Regions from separate parts of the Homo sapiens genome. Here region 2 is linked to region 1. A link means that fine-mapping ties the variant in region 1 to the expression of a gene that starts in the linked region. Tissue or cell type: atrial appendage. Region 1 holds a variant in brackets; the other region holds the start of a gene. All regions are shown on one strand. Distances are from middle to middle.

What was found. PIP is the estimated chance that this variant, and not a neighbour inherited with it, causes the effect.
Region 2: TICRR starts here. The variant in region 1 is fine-mapped to the expression of TICRR in atrial appendage (GTEx, PIP above 0.99). The same link has a PIP of 0.9 or more in breast, subcutaneous fat, thyroid, tibial artery and tibial nerve.

What each region holds. Positions count from the first base shown.
Region 1 is chr15:89,626,731-89,634,730 of GRCh38, forward strand. It overlaps TICRR (TOPBP1 interacting checkpoint and replication regulator), which reads left to right. Exons shown (of 22, transcript NM_152259.4): 22 at 226-1,293. The coding sequence ends at 356. KIF7 (kinesin family member 7) reads right to left here. Exons shown (of 19, transcript NM_198525.3): 12 at 6,956-7,153; 13 at 6,411-6,536; 14 at 6,090-6,266; 15 at 4,765-4,980; 16 at 3,557-3,763; 17 at 2,645-2,843; 18 at 2,246-2,392; 19 at 1,247-2,056. The coding sequence ends at 1,689. Among named protein-coding and RNA genes, the nearest start is that of KIF7, 25 kb to the right of the region's middle. RefSeq lists an enhancer at 2,034-3,233. The variant C/CAG (reference allele first, on the strand shown) is at 3,773.
Region 2 is chr15:89,571,107-89,579,244 of GRCh38, forward strand. It overlaps TICRR (TOPBP1 interacting checkpoint and replication regulator), which reads left to right and starts at 4,363. Exons shown (of 22, transcript NM_152259.4): 1 at 4,363-5,134. The coding sequence starts at 4,481. RefSeq lists a silencer at 4,351-4,640 and an enhancer at 4,762-5,290.

The DNA.
Region 1 (8,000 bases):
TTGCATTTTCAGAGCTGCTTCTTGCTGCCAGCACGGTGCATAGCTGTTAAGGGCAGGGTCCTTCTAAAAAGTGTAGGTACCATTTCTGTAGGATAAGCGAACCTCCAAGCAGTGCTGATTTTCTTAAAGTCTGTTTTTGTGTGTAACCCTCTGCAATTTAAGCCAATTTTTTTCAGTTCGGTCCTCTGTGACTCCTGCATGCTAAGCCTTTCTACCTTCTTCTAGATGAGGATGTGGATGTTCTTCCCTCCACTGTAGAAGACTCTCCTTTCAGTCGCGCTTTCTCCAGGAGGCGCCCCATCAGCAGAACTTATACACGGAAGAAGCTCATGGGAACCTGGCTGGAGGACTTATAGCCACAAACATTACTGAGCCCAAAAGATCAAGGAGTCAGCCAGGACCCTGTGGACATAAAGAAGTTGGATGCCTGGTCCCAAGCCTCTTTTGCCATGGTCAGTGTTCAGATTGCCATTAGAATGCCTTAGGGTTTTCTAATTCCCCTTATGGATCCAATCCATCTCCTGGCCCTGCCCCTTGTTGGGGAAGTTGCAGGAGGAGAGGTGGATGGCAATGTGATTGGTGCTATAACTCAGGCAGCCTGGGAGTCAGGAACCCAGACAAGGAATCCCATTCCAGCCTCACCCCAACCATGACCTTGGCAAGTCAGGGGGCCACTCTGCCTCATTTATGCAAATGGAGAAAGGCGCCCTCCCTGGGGTCCCTTGAGCTGCTGTAAGGCTGGGCTGCTGCGACACAGGCAGCGCTTTGTAAACTGTGAAGCCATATACGTGAAACTGAAGAGTGCATTGGGCAGTGGAAGCTATTTTTTGCCTTCCCTGTGTAACAGTAAAATCATCTCTAGTGACTGAGCACTCAGTACATTTTTGTTTAATGTTGGGCCTGAGGTTAACTGTGACCATGGTCCAGCTTGAGTGGCTTCTGGAGCAGCCACATTTTCAAGGACTGTCCAAGAGCCAGCCAGTTCAGGGCTCAGGCCTCACCCATTGCCCACTCCTGGGGAGACCATCACCTGGCTCATCGTTTCCACCAAGAGTGCCCCACAGGAGTGCCCCACAGACCCGCTGGACCAGCCTGCTGCGGGTCCTGGCCAGGGGTCTGGCTAACGGTGAGGGCTGACTCTGAACTGTCTCTCAGTCTCCAGAAAGTGTTCAAGCCTGTTGTGTTCCCAAATCTGATTCCTCCTATTGTCTTGTAAATCAAACTCTAAGTGAAAACTTCCCATTTGTCCCTTCAAAGATTTTTTTTTATTAAATGGTTTTTTAAGATCCTAAAGTCTCCCAGTTTCCCCTATATACATAAGACCATTTAAACCACAACCTGGTTACCACCGACCCTTTCGTGATGATTCTTGGCCAAACCCCTGAACTACAAGCACATCCATTTACGCCTGAAACCAGAATTGTCCTGAGATTCGAGCAAGACACAAGGCGGCAATTGGGTACCACAGCTTCATGGAAGTAAGTGGTGGGAATTTGCATATTATTTTGTTAAATGAGGGTCCAGTTCTTTTGGGCCATGGCCCAAATTTGTTGATCCCAGTGAGGGTACAGATGAGGGCCTGGATTTAGGGTGTGCGGTAAGGACTGCCCTTCACAGAAGCAAAACAGGCAGCTGCCCCTTTCAGCAGGCTCGGAGTCTCCCTCCAAGGCAGGGTCTGCCCCGAGGGCTTACAGGGGGTTTTTCCGGACATCAATCATCCCCGGGCTGGCTCGTCGCAGTTCCCGCCGGGGCTTGGACAAAGGCCCAAAGTTCCAGGGCAGGCCTGCCTCACCCACAGGAAGCACCCGCCCCACCAGGGGCTCAGCCGCCTCCCGCTGCCTCAGTTCCTCGGGGGACCCCTGCTCCTCACCACACAGGCTCGAGCGTTTCCAGGTCAAGGGTAACGGAGCGTGGACCAAGTCCCGCGTCTCCTCCCGGGTGCGGGGGGCCCCCTCAGTGAGGGGGGACAGCCAGAGAAGCTCGGGTGCCAGGTGGAGCTCATCTTCATTTCCAGGAGCCTGTCTGCCCTCCGAGCACAGGCTCCTCTTCTCCCCACCTGTCATGGAGAGTAACGTGTCCTCATCAGAAACAGGTGGCAACACCTTCCCGAAGCCCTAGCTCCCCAGTGCCCCAGCACAATAAGCAACCTGTGAATTGAGCCAATAAAGGCTCGAGGGAGAGTGGTCTCTAAGCTTTCCCCAAAGAAAGGGAACAGGTCTGACTTCAGAGCGCGACGAGGAGTTACCCCTGCTGTGGCCTACAGCGTTCACACCGCCGAGCTTCTGTTTCAGTTCCTGGTTTATCCACATGTAACGGCCCAGTTCCTTCTCCAGAGCTTGAATCCGGGCCTCATACTGCCTCCTGCTGTCTGCTAACCCTTCACCGAGGTGGTCTAGAGTGGAAAGGTCGAGGAGAGGGTGGTGAGGGCTGCAGGCGGGGCAGGCGGCCAGGGCTGTGGGGGTGGGGGCTGTGGGCTGGGTGGGGGCCGGGGTTGTGAGCGGTGGGCCGGGCCACCAGGGCTGTAGGTGCAGGGGCTGTGAGTGGCAGGGGCGGTGGGGGGAGGGAGGGGGGTGCAGGGCGGGGAAGATGGGGGTGGGGGGGATGGAGGGGGCCGGGGTTGTGAGCCATGGGCCGGGCTGCTCACCTCGACTCTGCTGCAGGAGCAGCTGCATGTTCTGCTCGTGCTCCTTCTGCTGCAGGGTCAGCTGGCGGTCCATCTCCAGGCGCTGCCGCTCCAGGGCCACCTCCAGCCAGTACACCAGCCTCTGCTGCTCCTCCAGCTGCATCTCCAGTTCCGAGAAGGCAATCTGCTGCTGGTGCTGCTCCTCTCGGAGCGTCACCACCTGTCCCAAGACCCAGCCAGGCTCAGCCCTCATCATGACCCCTCTTCATCCAGCTAATCCTCAATCACAGACACAGTATTGGCACACTTGCCACCACGGCACTAAGAAATCACCAGGGTCTTCCCTGCTGAGCCAAGACTCAGCCTCAGACACCTCAGCAGTGCTCTAGTTATCTTCCAACGATCAGAGCTGGCTCTCACCTTATCTGCTATCTCTGCCACAAACCCTTTCCTAGCCACACACTATGGAGCTGGGCAGAGCGTCAAGTTGTGGGATTTCATCTAGACCAACCTCAGCACTATGGACATCTGGGACCAGATAATTCTTGGTTGTGGGGGCCTGTCCTGTGTGTTATAGGATGTTTAGTAACATCCCTGGCCTCCACCCCCACCACTGTGACAACCAAAAGTATCTCCAGCCATGGCCAAATGTCACAAAAGGGCAAAAACTTCCCCTACTGAGAGCTACTATTGTGGCCATGGACCACCCTGAGGTTAGCCAATCAGAGCAGAAGTGGGGGGCGGGTAGGAAACTGGGTCTTAGTTTCACAAGTAAAATAGGCTTTAAGGTCAGGCGGCCCTGCAGATGAGTTGGTCCTGATTCTGTCCCCCAGTCTGGGAGGAAACGGGATATCCGCTGGAGCAGCTGCCATGAGACACCTCCCCACACGTGCCGCTGAGGAGGAGCTGGGGGGCCATGGGCTGCTGGCCCACCTTGTCAAAATACTTGCAGAGGAGGGCTCTGGTCTCTGAGGATGAGAGGTAGCTGAGCTTGGCCATGAGGTTCATCTCGCACTGGGACAGCAACGAGGCTGAGGCCCGAAGCACCCGCTGGCGGCATGTGATGGCCTCATTCTTATACTCAATGGCAGCATCCAGGGCCTCGATGGCCTCATCCAACTGGAACAGCGTCCGCTCCTCCTGCAGAGA[C/CAG]GGGCACGCGTGGAGGAACAGCACCCACTGCCTGAATGCTGAAGTCCTGGGCAGACATGCAACAGCCAACACGTAGCCACAACTGGGCCTTAAGGGTCCCCTCGTCCCAAGGGCCAAGTCAGCCCATCGAGAGAGGTGCCCCCTGCTCACTGTCACAGCCCCAACCCCAGGGTGAGCTGGGGGCACTGCTCAGAGGTGGCCTGCTCAACTGCAAGCCTCTGTGAATGATCTACATTCAGGAAGTTCAGAGCACCCTAACCAAACAAAAGGCATGGTTGGGACAGCCACGGAGGCACCACGGTGTCTGCTGGGTAAGCTTCTACAGATGGGGATACGTTCTAAGAAATGCATCATTAGGCGTTTTCGACGTCGTGCAAACATCAGAATATACTCACACAAACCTAGATGGTATAGCCCACCACACACCTAGGCTACAAGCCTGGACAGCATGTGACTGTACTGAATACTGTAGGCAGTTGTTAACCATGGTGAGTATTTGTGTATCTAAACATAGAAAACGCACAGTAAAAATGCGGTGTTATAATTTTCTGGGAGCACCATTGTTGTATGAGCTGTCATTCACTGAAATGTCACACAGCACATGACTATAGTCACATAGGCTTTCTCTCTGCTCAGGGAACACAGATGTGTGGGCATGAGGTGCACTGAGTATGCGCCTGACACTCCACACACGAAGCCGAGACGTGTGGGCAGGTACTCGAATGCAGCACAGAACAGGAGTCCAGGCTCCAGCCAGAAGAGAGCTGAGAGGTCAGCACAGCCTGGCCCCTGTGTCCCAGCCAATGAGGCCAAAGCAGGGGCAGAAGGGCCAGGCCAGCCCTCCCCAGCCCCCACCTCCACCTAACAGTGAAAACTTGGGTCTGCCGACAGCAAGGCCCAGCACCCGCAGAGGGCTGGAGCAAGGGCTGAGGAGAGCAGACAGACAGGCATACAATGGCACCAAGGGGCTGAGCCATGGGGCCGCAGGGTACCTCGGGGGACAGCAGACTCCCCTGCCTCAGCTTGCCGTCGATCTCCAGGCGCTGCTTGAGCAGCGAGTCCTTCTCCTGGCGCAGGCTGTCGATCTCCCCGCGGATCTGCTGCTGGCTCTGGGCGCTGCCCTGCCGCAGCTGCCCGCTCTTCTCGGACAGCTCCTTCTCCAGGTGCTCCAGCCGGCTGGACACTCGCACGATGTCCTCGTTGAGGGCCTGGGGGCAGAATCACCAGGGATTAGAGAAGGAACAGGCACTGTCCTCACAGGGGGGACAGAAAGGGCCGGATGTTAAGGAGGACTTGCGTCCTTCCCTCAAGAAACCAACACTCCAAATGTTCTGCTCAGCAGGGAGACCAGACTTAGTTCACAGAGACTCCAGGAGGCGGGGCTAAAGGGACCAGAGCATTTGCAGAGGGGCACTCAGAGATGGCGAGAGGAGGATAAGGACCAGAGGGACGTGGCCCTCCTGGCAAGAACAGGCAATGGGTAGGGGTGGGAGGAATGATCTGTCACTGAGATGACCGGACTGGACAGTGATAGGAATTGGCCAAGCCCTAAAGGCCTTTCTGGGAGCCAGATGCGGGAGGAAGTGAGGGCTCTCCTGGCGGAGGGAAGTTACGGATCATTCCAGTAGGACCCTGGATCCTCCTGGACATCAGAGTGATGCGTGCTGGCAGGAGCAAGGCTCCTGGCCTCTGCGGGCCTAGGACACTGGGCGTGTGGCCCAAGCCCCTGTACTGGAACAGGCCCTGCATCAATGACGGCCATCCCCCTCCAGCCATCATGGTAACATTATGATCCCATCTGACAGAAGACAACGCTGTGGCTCAGAAGCTGACCTTCCTATTCTAGATGGAGTAATGATGCCAGGCGGAGAAGTCTCTTTCTATTTGGCTATACCACCTTCCTATACCTGCGCCTCCTCATTCTTCCTGCACAGGCCCTGAGGAGGGGGTTAATGAGTGAAATGAATTGGAGGATGGACACTTAAGAGAGGTTCTTCTATGCATACATCTGTAACTGTGTCATAAATATCTTGAAGCCCTACAGCTCATGGGGATGCACAGGATAGAACCCAGTAGGACAGAGCTTCCTCTGTCTGGAACTTACCTGGCAGAGATACCACCTAGAAGAAACTCTCCTGTCTAGACCTCGCCTGGCAGGGACATCACCTGGCAGGTTTATCACTTGGAAGGACCTCACTTTGCTAGACCTCACCTGGCAGAAACTTACTTGGCAGGAGCTCACCTGGCAAGATCTGTCCTGGCTGGACCTCACTTCACTGGACCTCACCTGGCAGGATCTCTCCTGGCAGGGCCTCACCTGGCTGGATCTCAGGCGCTTGCTCTCCAGCCCCGTCTTCTCCTGCATCAGGGCCTCCTTCTTGGCCAGGATGGCCTCCCGCTTGTGGAGCTCCTCCCCCAGCTCCTCCAGCGCCCGCCGCTGCTGTAGCACCTTCTCCATCTCCTGGTCCAGCCACTTCTTCTGCTCCTCAATCTTCTAAGGAAAAGTAGGGAGGGAGGGAGGGAACTCAGGGCCCACCTCTGGCTGTGTCAGCCGCCACTCGAGGTTCACTGGGGAGAAAGGTGCACCCACCAGCCAGCCCCCAGGGGAGCCCTGGGTGCGGACACAGCCTGGCCCCACCTGCTGCTGTTCCAGGCTGACCACAGAGCCGTTGCTGCCACTGCGCCTCTTCCTCTGGAATGCCGCGATCTCTTCCGTCTTAATCTTCAGGATCTTCTGCTGTTGCTCATGCTTCAGCTCCAGCTCCTGGGTGAGGAGCTCAGTGGGCAGGGCTGTTTATGGTGCCAGCATCTTACCAGAGCCTGCCACCGATCCCAAAGCCCCCAGGAGTGCCTGCCCACTCCCAAGAGGGCCCTGCGAAGTGTCCCCCAGACCCATCCCACACAAATCTCCCTGGAGACCGGCAAATAGACGCAAACACTTAGAAATAAGCCCCACAAGATGCCAGTCACCTCATATACCTCATCTCACTGAAGTCTCACCCTGGCCTTGAGTTTCCTATAACATTCCACATTTTCAGATGAAAAAACAGACTCAGGCTAAGTGACCTGCTTTCTAAGGTCACGTGGCTGTGGGTTGCAAACCCTGCCTGGGCTCCCCTGGCTGGGCCGCCAGCTCAGCCTATTGGCCTGGACAGAAGGTCCCCACCCTGCCGTGAGCCTGACCTTGACGCGGTGCTGCCGCTTGCTCATTTCTGCCTCCAGGCGCCGCTTCTGCTCCGTCTCCTCGCGAAGCCGCCTCTGCAGCTGTCCCTGCTGCTGCCGCATGAGCTGCACGTTCCGCTCGAGCTCCTGCAGTCGCTTCTCACTCTGGGCCGACAGTGACACCAGCCGCTCCGTAGCCTGCTTCTTCTCCTTCAGCACCTGGGACCCACACAGTCTTCACTGGGCCATGCACGGGGCTACCGCGAGCCTGCCATAGTGCTGGGCACTCAACAAGGGCAGGCAGATAGAGGGCAAATGGGTAGGTGGGTGATAGACCAATAATAATAACAGAGGCCGGGTGCGGTGGCTCACGTCTGTAATCCCAGCACTTTGAGAGGCTGAGGCGGGCGGATTACTTGAGGTCAGGAGTTTGAGACCAACCTGGCCAACATAGTGAAATCCTGTCTCTACTAAAAATACAAAAATTAGCTGGGTTTGGTGGTGGGTGCCTCTAATCCCAGCTACTCAGGAGGCTGAGGCAGGAGAATCACTTGAACCCGGGAGGCAGAGGTTGCAGTGAGCCGGGATCGTGCCACTGCACTCCAGCTTGGGCAACACAGCAAGACTCTGACTCAAAAAATAATAACAGGACACAGGAGCCAAGATGGCCGAATAGGAACAGCTCCAGTCTACAGCTCCCAGCGTGAGTGACGCAGAAGACGGGTGATTTCTGCATTTCCATCTGAGGTACTGGGTTCATCTCACTAGGGAGTGCCAGACAGTGGGCGCAGGTCAGTGGGTGCGCGCACCGTGCGCGAGCCGAAGCAGGGCGAGGCATTGCCTCACTCGGGAAGTGCAAGGGGTCAGGGAGTTCCCTTTCCTAGTCAAACGAAGGGGTGACAGATGGCACCTGGAAAATCGGGTCACTCCCACCAGAATACTGCGCTTTTCCGATGGGCTTAAAAAAGGCACACCAGGAGATTATATCCCGCACATGGCTCAGAGGGTCCTACGCCCACAGAGTCTGGCTGATTGCTAGCACAGCAGTCGGAGATCAAACTGCAAG
Region 2 (8,138 bases), 56 kb before region 1:
TTGGACACAAGTGTAAGATTTGATCAAATTGTCTTTTTTAATCTCAAAGTGTGGCTAAAAAAGATCTCATACTAGGAAAACAAGAATGTCAGATCCACCATTTTCATGTGATTTGCTTGTGATTGTATTGTTAATATTAATAATACAACTTCCAACATACGACTTCTTAGCAGGAATCTTGTAAAGCCACTTTTTCTTTTTCTTTTTTTTTTTCTTCTTCTTCTTTTTTTTTTTTTTTTGAGATGGAGTTTCGCTCTTGTTGCCCAGGCTGGAGTGTAATGGTGCGATCTTGGCTCACCACAACCTCCGCCTCGCAAGTTCAAGCAATTCTCCTGCCTCAGTCTCCTGAGTAGCTGGGATTACAGGCATGCGCCACCACGCCCAGCTAATTTTGTATTTTTAGTAGAGATGGAGTTTCTCCATGTTGGTCAGGCTGGTCTCGAACTCCCAACCTCAGGTGATCCGCCTGCCTCAGCCTCCCAAAGTGCTGGAATTACAGGCGTGAGCCACCGCACCCGGCCACACTTGTTCATTTTTTGAGACTCGTTTTAGTTAAAACTCAATTGGATAATCCTTCAATCCATTTAATCAGATTAATGAAAAATGCAGTAGTCACAAAACACTGGTACCCAATGAATGAGTGCATTGTCAGATAAAAAATAAGAGAAACGGAAGTTCAATATTTTCTTCCTGCACCCAGTGGGTTGATTGCCTTGGGCACTTCTTTGTGTGTTAGCTCTTCCCTTTGGAAAACAGTCCCCAACATGGTCTGCAGCATGTCCTCACAGGTCTCACTGCTTCATTCTTGCCCCTACATATTCAATTTTCCACCTAGTAGCCAGAGCGCTCTTCTCCAAACACAAATCATATCAAGTCCCTCCCGTCCTCAAAACCTTCCCCTGGCTTCCTAACATTCTCAGTAGAATATCCAAGCTACCTCTGTGGTCTCCAGAGCCTCTCACTGGCCCCACTGCCTCCCTGGCCTTTCTCTCATCCCACCACCTGCTCACCACCACCCAGCCCCACTGCCCCACTGCCCTCCTTCCATTCCTCAAACTCTCTATGTTCCTTCCTGTCTGGGTGTTTCAAAGATGCCCCAATCACTTTTCCTCCCTGCTCTTTCCTGTCCCTATCTCACCCGCCATTGTTAAACTCCTGCTTACCCCTAAAATCTCAGTTTAAATCTCACTGCGTTAGGTTGTTGCTTATCCCTTAACACCTCAAGGCACAATATACATTTCAGTAAGGTTTGTGATGCAATATGTCACAAAATGCAATATGTGAATACATTAAAGTTTAAACAAAAATCTTAACCAGCTCACCCATTGTAGTCCCTTATCCTATGCTTCACTTTCCCCTTAAAATTCTTTTCAGACCGGGTGGTGGCTCATGCCTGTAATCCCAGCACTTTGGGAGGCTGAGGTGGGTGGATCACCTGAGGCCAGGAGTTCCAGACCAGCCTGGCCAACATGGCGAAACCCCATCTCTACCAAAAGTACAAAAAATTAGTGGGGTATGGTGGTGGGCACCTGTATTCCCAGCTACTCGGGAGACTGAGGCAAGAGAATTGCTTGAACCCGGGAGGTGGAGGCTGCAGTGAGCCAAGATCACGCTGTTGCACTCCAGCCTGGGCAACAAGAGCAAAACTCCGTCTCAAAAAACAAAACAAAACAAAACAAAAAAACCTCTTTTCGGAAAAAAAATTTTTTTCATATTATGTTCATCTGTATTATTATCTGTCTAATGTCTGATCCCCTACCTATTAGACTGGAAATTCCATTAGGGCAGGAATGGTGCCTGGTATATAGTAAGTGTTGTTGGATGAGTGAAATGAATGACTGGCATAAGGATGAAAGGTGTTATGAGCTGAGCTGTGTCCTCCCAAAAAGATATGTTGAGGTCCTGGCTGGGTGCAGTGGCTCACTTCTGTAATCCTAGCACTTTGGGAGGCCGAGGCAGGTGGATCACGAGGTCAGGAGATCGAGACCATCCTGGCTAACATGGTGAAACCCTGTCTCTACTAAAAATACAAAAAAAAAAAAATAGTCGGGTGTGGTGGCTGGCGCCTGTAGTCCCAGCTACTTGGGAGGCTGAGGCAGGAGAATGGCGGGAACCCAGGAGGTGGAGCTTGCAGTGAGCCAAGATCGCGCCACCGCACTCCAGCCTGGACGACAGAGCGAGACTCCATCTCAAAAAAAAAAAAAAAAAAGATATGTTAAGGTCCTCCTATCCCCCAGCATCCCCCAGAATGTGATCTTATTTGAAAATAGGGTCTTGTAGAAGTAAGCAAGTTAAAATAAAGTCATTAGGGTGGGCCCTAATCCAACATGACTGGTGTCCTTATAAAAGGGAAGTTTGGACACAGAGACAGCCATGCACAGAGGGAAGATGACGGGAAGACACACAGGAAGAACACCAAGAATTGCCAGCAAACATCAGAAACTAGAAGAGTCAAAGGATGATTCTCCCCTAGAGCCATGGGGGCTGGAGGGGAGCAAGTGCATGCCAACACTTTGATTTTGGACATCAAGCCTTCAGAACTGTGAGGCAATTTTTGGGTTTGATCCTTTGTTATGGCAGGCAGCCCTAGAAAACTCAACCAAAAGAGAAAATTGTTGTACATGAGGCAGTAATTGCTGAGGACTTTGATTGGAGAAGCCAAGGCACATAAAGGAAGTTGTAGCCAAAGCATATAAAGGAAGTTGTTCTGTTTCCAGGTGGAAACAGAATTACTTAGCAAGCAGAATTCAATGGTGTGGAGTATTGGATCAATCTCCCTAAACACATATTCAGGTAACCGACCTTCATTTTTTGTCCCCTTCTTCTTTCCAAATACCATATTCCACTGATCCTAGAGGCACATCTCACATCTCTGAAATCAGCCTGTTCACTGGTGTCCAGCAAGAGGAAGTGTAAAAAAGTTTCAAAAAAAATCACATGGAGAGACCATCACAGACAACTTCCGGTACACAATATTATATTAACAGTTTAAAAATATGCATATAAATGCATTTCTATCTATATATAACTTCTATCTATGATTATCTATCTATATATAATTCCTTTTTTTTTTGTTTTGTTTTTTTTTTTTTAGTAGAGACAGGGTTTCACTGTGTTAGCCAGGATGGTCTCGATCTCCTGACCTGGTGATTCGCCCGCCTCGGCCTCCCAAAGTGCTGGGATTACAGGCGTGAGCCACCGTGCCCGGCCTATCTATATATAATTCTATGTATTCTATCTATATAGCGATATATAATTTCTATCTGTAATGCAAATCTACATGTGATTTCTATCTATATATACATGTAGATAGAAAATTTAGGGAATTCACTGCAGGTGCTGCTTGCAGTCCACTTTTAAAACCTAACATTACATAATAAAACACTATTTTAAGAAGCTGCACTAGGCCGGGCTTGGTGGCTCACGCCTGTAATCCCAGCACTTTGGGAGGCCAAGTCGGGTGGATCACAAGGTCAGGAGTTTGAGACCAGCCTGGCCAACATGGTGAAACTCCGTCTTTACTAAAAATACAAAAATTAGTCTGGGGTGGTGGCGTGCGCCTGTAGTCCTATTCAGGAGGCTGAGGCAGGAGGATCGCTTGAACCCGGGAGGTGGAGGTTGCAGTGAGCCAAGATCGTGTCAATGCACTCCAGCCTAGGAGACAGAGCGAGACTCCGTTTCAAAAAAAAAAAAAAAAAAAAAAAAAAAAAAAAAGGAGCTGCACGATGCTCCCCTTGGGCGTGTACCATACCTTATTTAACCATTCCCAAACTGTTTCCATTTTTTCTGATGTTAAATAAACTCTAAGATGTACAGACGTCTTTTATCTGGCTCTCCGATTACCTTCTGCAGATAAACTCCTAGAAGTTACTGGGGCAAAGGGAGTGAACCTTTAATTTTTAATAAAATTTTTTAAATTACAGAAAAAGCCGTAGTCGTCAGATTCTACTTCCTAGGCGGTCCACAGGGATTTCAACAAGTTCGATTCAAACCATCCCAAATTCCCTCCCGGCACTAAGTTTTCCTCGGTCTTGGGAAACGTGGCCCCGCAGTCCGCACTCACGACTGCGCACAAACGCTGGCCTCTTTCCAATGGCGAAACTTCTCGACACGCCCCCGAGGCACCACCTCTTTAAAATTTAAAACGAAGGCCCAGGCCAATGAATGCTAAGCTTCTCTCGGACCACAGAGACCCGCCCACCGTCACTCCCTCCACCAATCAGACTGAAGTTTTCTCCACTGCCCCTCCAATCACCGCCAAAAATGGAAGTTGCTCTCGTAACTTACGTAAGGCAAGCAGCCAATAGGAGCAAACCTTGGAAACTAGCTCCCCCAATAGCAGCAGTTCCTGGAGAGCGCGGGAGCCTTTCGACCAGGGTCCCAAAGGAAAGCAGTGAGTGGTGCTGTTTCCCTGAAGGAAGGGACTAAGGGACGGTGGCGCGGGCCCGGACCGGGGCCCCGGGGCGGCGGCACGGCCGATATGGCATGCTGTCACAAAGTAATGCTGCTGCTGGACACCGCGGGCGGCGCCGCCCGCCACAGCCGGGTCCGGCGGGCCGCCCTGCGCCTCCTCACCTATCTGAGTTGCCGATTCGGCCTGGCCAGGGTCCACTGGGCCTTCAAGTTCTTTGACTCGCAGGGGGCGCGGAGCCGGCCGTCCCGCGTGTCTGACTTCCGCGAGCTGGGGTCCCGCTCGTGGGAGGACTTTGAGGAGGAGCTGGAGGCCAGGCTCGAGGATCGCGCCCACCTGCCCGGCCCGGCGCCCAGGGCCACCCACACGCACGGCGCCCTGATGGAGACGCTGCTAGACTACCAGTGGGACCGGCCCGAGATCACGTCGCCCACGAAGCCGATCCTGCGGAGCAGCGGGAGGAGACTGCTGGACGTGGAGAGCGAGGCCAAGGAGGCCGAGGCCGCGCTCGGGGGCTTGGTGAACGCCGTCTTCCTCCTGGCCCCCTGTCCGCACTCGCAGAGGGAGCTGCTGCAGTTCGTGTCTGGGTGCGAGGCCCAGGCCCAGCGCCTGCCGCCCACCCCTAAGCAGGTGATGGAGAAGTTGTTGCCCAAGAGAGTCCGGGAAGTCATGGTCGCCCGAAAAATCACCTTCTACTGGGTGGATACCACCGAATGGTCTAAGGTAAGGAAGGTTACTGTCGTCTCAGATGGCGTGCACGGTGCTTTCCTTGCTAACCAGAACTTGGCAGCGTCCTTAGAACAGCCACAGACCCCGAATGAGACTAATATGACTATGCGTCCCTTCGGAAGGAAACAAATAAATAGGAACAGTTTTCACAACAAAATGGGTAGTTCCTCACTACCTACTGTTTAAGACCCCTCACAATTTGGGCCCTACCTGCCTTCCCAGACTTGATTTTCCTACACACTACATCTACTCTAGCATATTGAAGTCCAGTCCAGAAAATCAACAGGTCTGGACTGCTTGTTTTGTGTTATGTGTGTTGTTCAATCTGCCTGGAATGCCAGTTCTCACTCTTCCAGGCCAGTCTTAACTTCACTTACCCTTTAAGGCTTCTTCTCCCAGTGACAACTGCTCAGTCCAGCGTCTGAATTGCCATACACATTTTGTGTGGCACTTAACCATTTCTCCATATGTTTTGATTATGCACATCTCTCACCCTCCATCTAGTCTAAAAATACCTCAGAGGCAAGCAGCAGGTTTTAACACAATACCCAGGGGTGTGTGTGTATGTGTGTGTGTATATATATATATATATATATATATATATATATATATATACACACACACACATATATATACACATTTATTTATATACATATATATATTTATTTATTATTATTTTTTGAGACAGTGTATGTCGCCCAGGCTGGAATGCAGTGGCTCACTGCAACCTCCACCCCTCCGGGTTCAAGCGATTCTCATGCCTCAGCCTCCCAAGTAGCTGAGACTACAGGCCCACGCCACCATGCCTGGCTAATTTTTTTGTATTTTCAGTGGAGACCAGGTTCCATGCTGCCCAGGCTGGTCTCAAACTCTGGCCTCAGGCAATCCGCCTGCCTTGGCCTCCCGAAGTGCCAGGATTATAGGTGTGAGCCACCACGCCCAGCCACCCAGATGTGTATTAAACGTTGTAGGTGTTCAGTCAGTATTGGCTGACTAAATGAGTACATTCTTGCGTACATTCTTGCAAACTTAAAGTCTTAAATGGCTAATTTGGATTTTTGCTGAGGCGGTGAGGCCCCCTGCTCCTGTTAAGTGCTAGGATAAGTATATACTTTTGCCTTCATCCTTCTCATTGCACTTCATTTAGTCAACAAATGTTCATTGAGAAGCCAGTAACATCTGAGTGCCTACCACACTGTTTGAGCTGCTGGGGACATGGTAACCAAAGCAGGGAACAGATTAAACAGATAAGCAAGTGACAATTTCAAATCATGCTCTGGAGAAAATAAAATGGGGTGAGAGGATGGGAGTAGAAGGTGGTTATTGTATACAGAGTGGTAGTGAGGGAAGGCCTTTTTTTTTTTTTTTTTTTTTTTTTTTGAGACAGAGTCTCGCTTTGTCACCCAGGCTGGAGTGCAGTGGCGTGATCTCGGCTCACTGCAACCTTCACCTCCTGGGTTCAAGCAATTCTCCTGCCTCAGCCTCCCAAGTAGCTGGGATTATAAGCGGGCGCCACCAGGCCTGGCTAATTTTTTTGTATTTTTAGTAGAGACGGAGTTTCACCATGCTACCCACCCTGGTCTCAAACTCCTGAGCTCAGGCAGTCCGCCAACCTCAGCCTCCCAAAGTGCTAGGATTACAGGCATGAGCCACCGTGCCTGGCAGGGAAGGCCTTTTTGAGCAGAGAATTGAATGGTGAAGGAGGAGGAACTCAAAGGTAGGTAAAGAACATTCCAGGTGAGGAGACAAGCAGGTGTAAGGATTTCAGCTGGAAATGAACTTAGTTTGTTTCAGAAACAAAAAGGCAAGGAGTGCTGAGACCTAGTAGGCAAGGGGAGCAGTGTGAGAGAAAGTCAGAAAGCAGGAGAGGCCGATCTGTAGGGCCAAGGTCAAAAATGTGGATTTTGTTCTAATTAATTAATGGGAAGGCTTTGGAATGTGGTTTAACCAAGTGAAAGATGTGATTCCACTTAATGGAAATACATGTCACTAACCCAGGAGTGAGTTAAATTGCAAGATTACAGATGGAAAATGAGCAAGCATTTAAATAATAATATGGTATGTTAAAATTTTCAAAGTGCTTTCACATGCGAAGCCCAAAAAAGGCGTGGCAAATGCAAAATAAGGCAGCAGTGGTTTGTCAAGAAAAGGAAGGGACAAAAAGTGTTTAAGGGGATGGTAAACATTTGATGGGGAAAATGAAATCCTAGATATATTAAAATTTAAGGCAGCCAGTCAAGCCTTAGACACAGTATACAACACATTGCTCAGCTGGAAACAATTGATATCACATCAAAGACTTTCTTCTGGAATTTTATTATGTTAAATACTGGCTAGAAATAAGTTAGATGGGGCTTGATGGATCTTGGAGATTCTTTGTCTCTCTTTTTTTCTCTTTAATCTCTCTCTCTCTTTTTTTTTTTGAATAGCATTGAAATAAGTGGGTTGACTGGATCTTTTTAAAGATCCCTTCCAGGTCTGATGTACCGTCGACTGAGGGGATGGGTCATCTCTGAGGCTTCCCTTCTTACATCGGCTGTATCCCCTAAGAAAATGCCCATCAGATACTCAAGTTTTTCTGGAATTTTCTTCTGCTGAAGATCTATCATTTTCTATTCAAAAACCTGCCCAGCCATGCTGGGCAAAAGGAAGGTTTGGGCTGTGTCCTTGGGGAGTGCTCTGTCCAGGAGCAGGGAGAAGGGAGGAAGAGAAAATCCAGGTCCTGCCTTGGGGAGCGTGCAGTCTGGGAAGTAGAACTGGGAGAAACAGAACCTGCACTTACATTGGAGGCAGAGGGATCCAAGCGCATAAAACAGGATATCATATTTGCAAAGATATAGGACAGAATGGAGGATAAGAGACCTCTGACACATTTTCAACTTTATGCCTTAGATTTATTCAATACATATTTGTTCCATACCTGCCAGGTATGCTAAGGAATCAAATAGATGTGGTCCCTGCCCTCTTGGAGCTTATAGTCTAGTGGACATTTACAGAT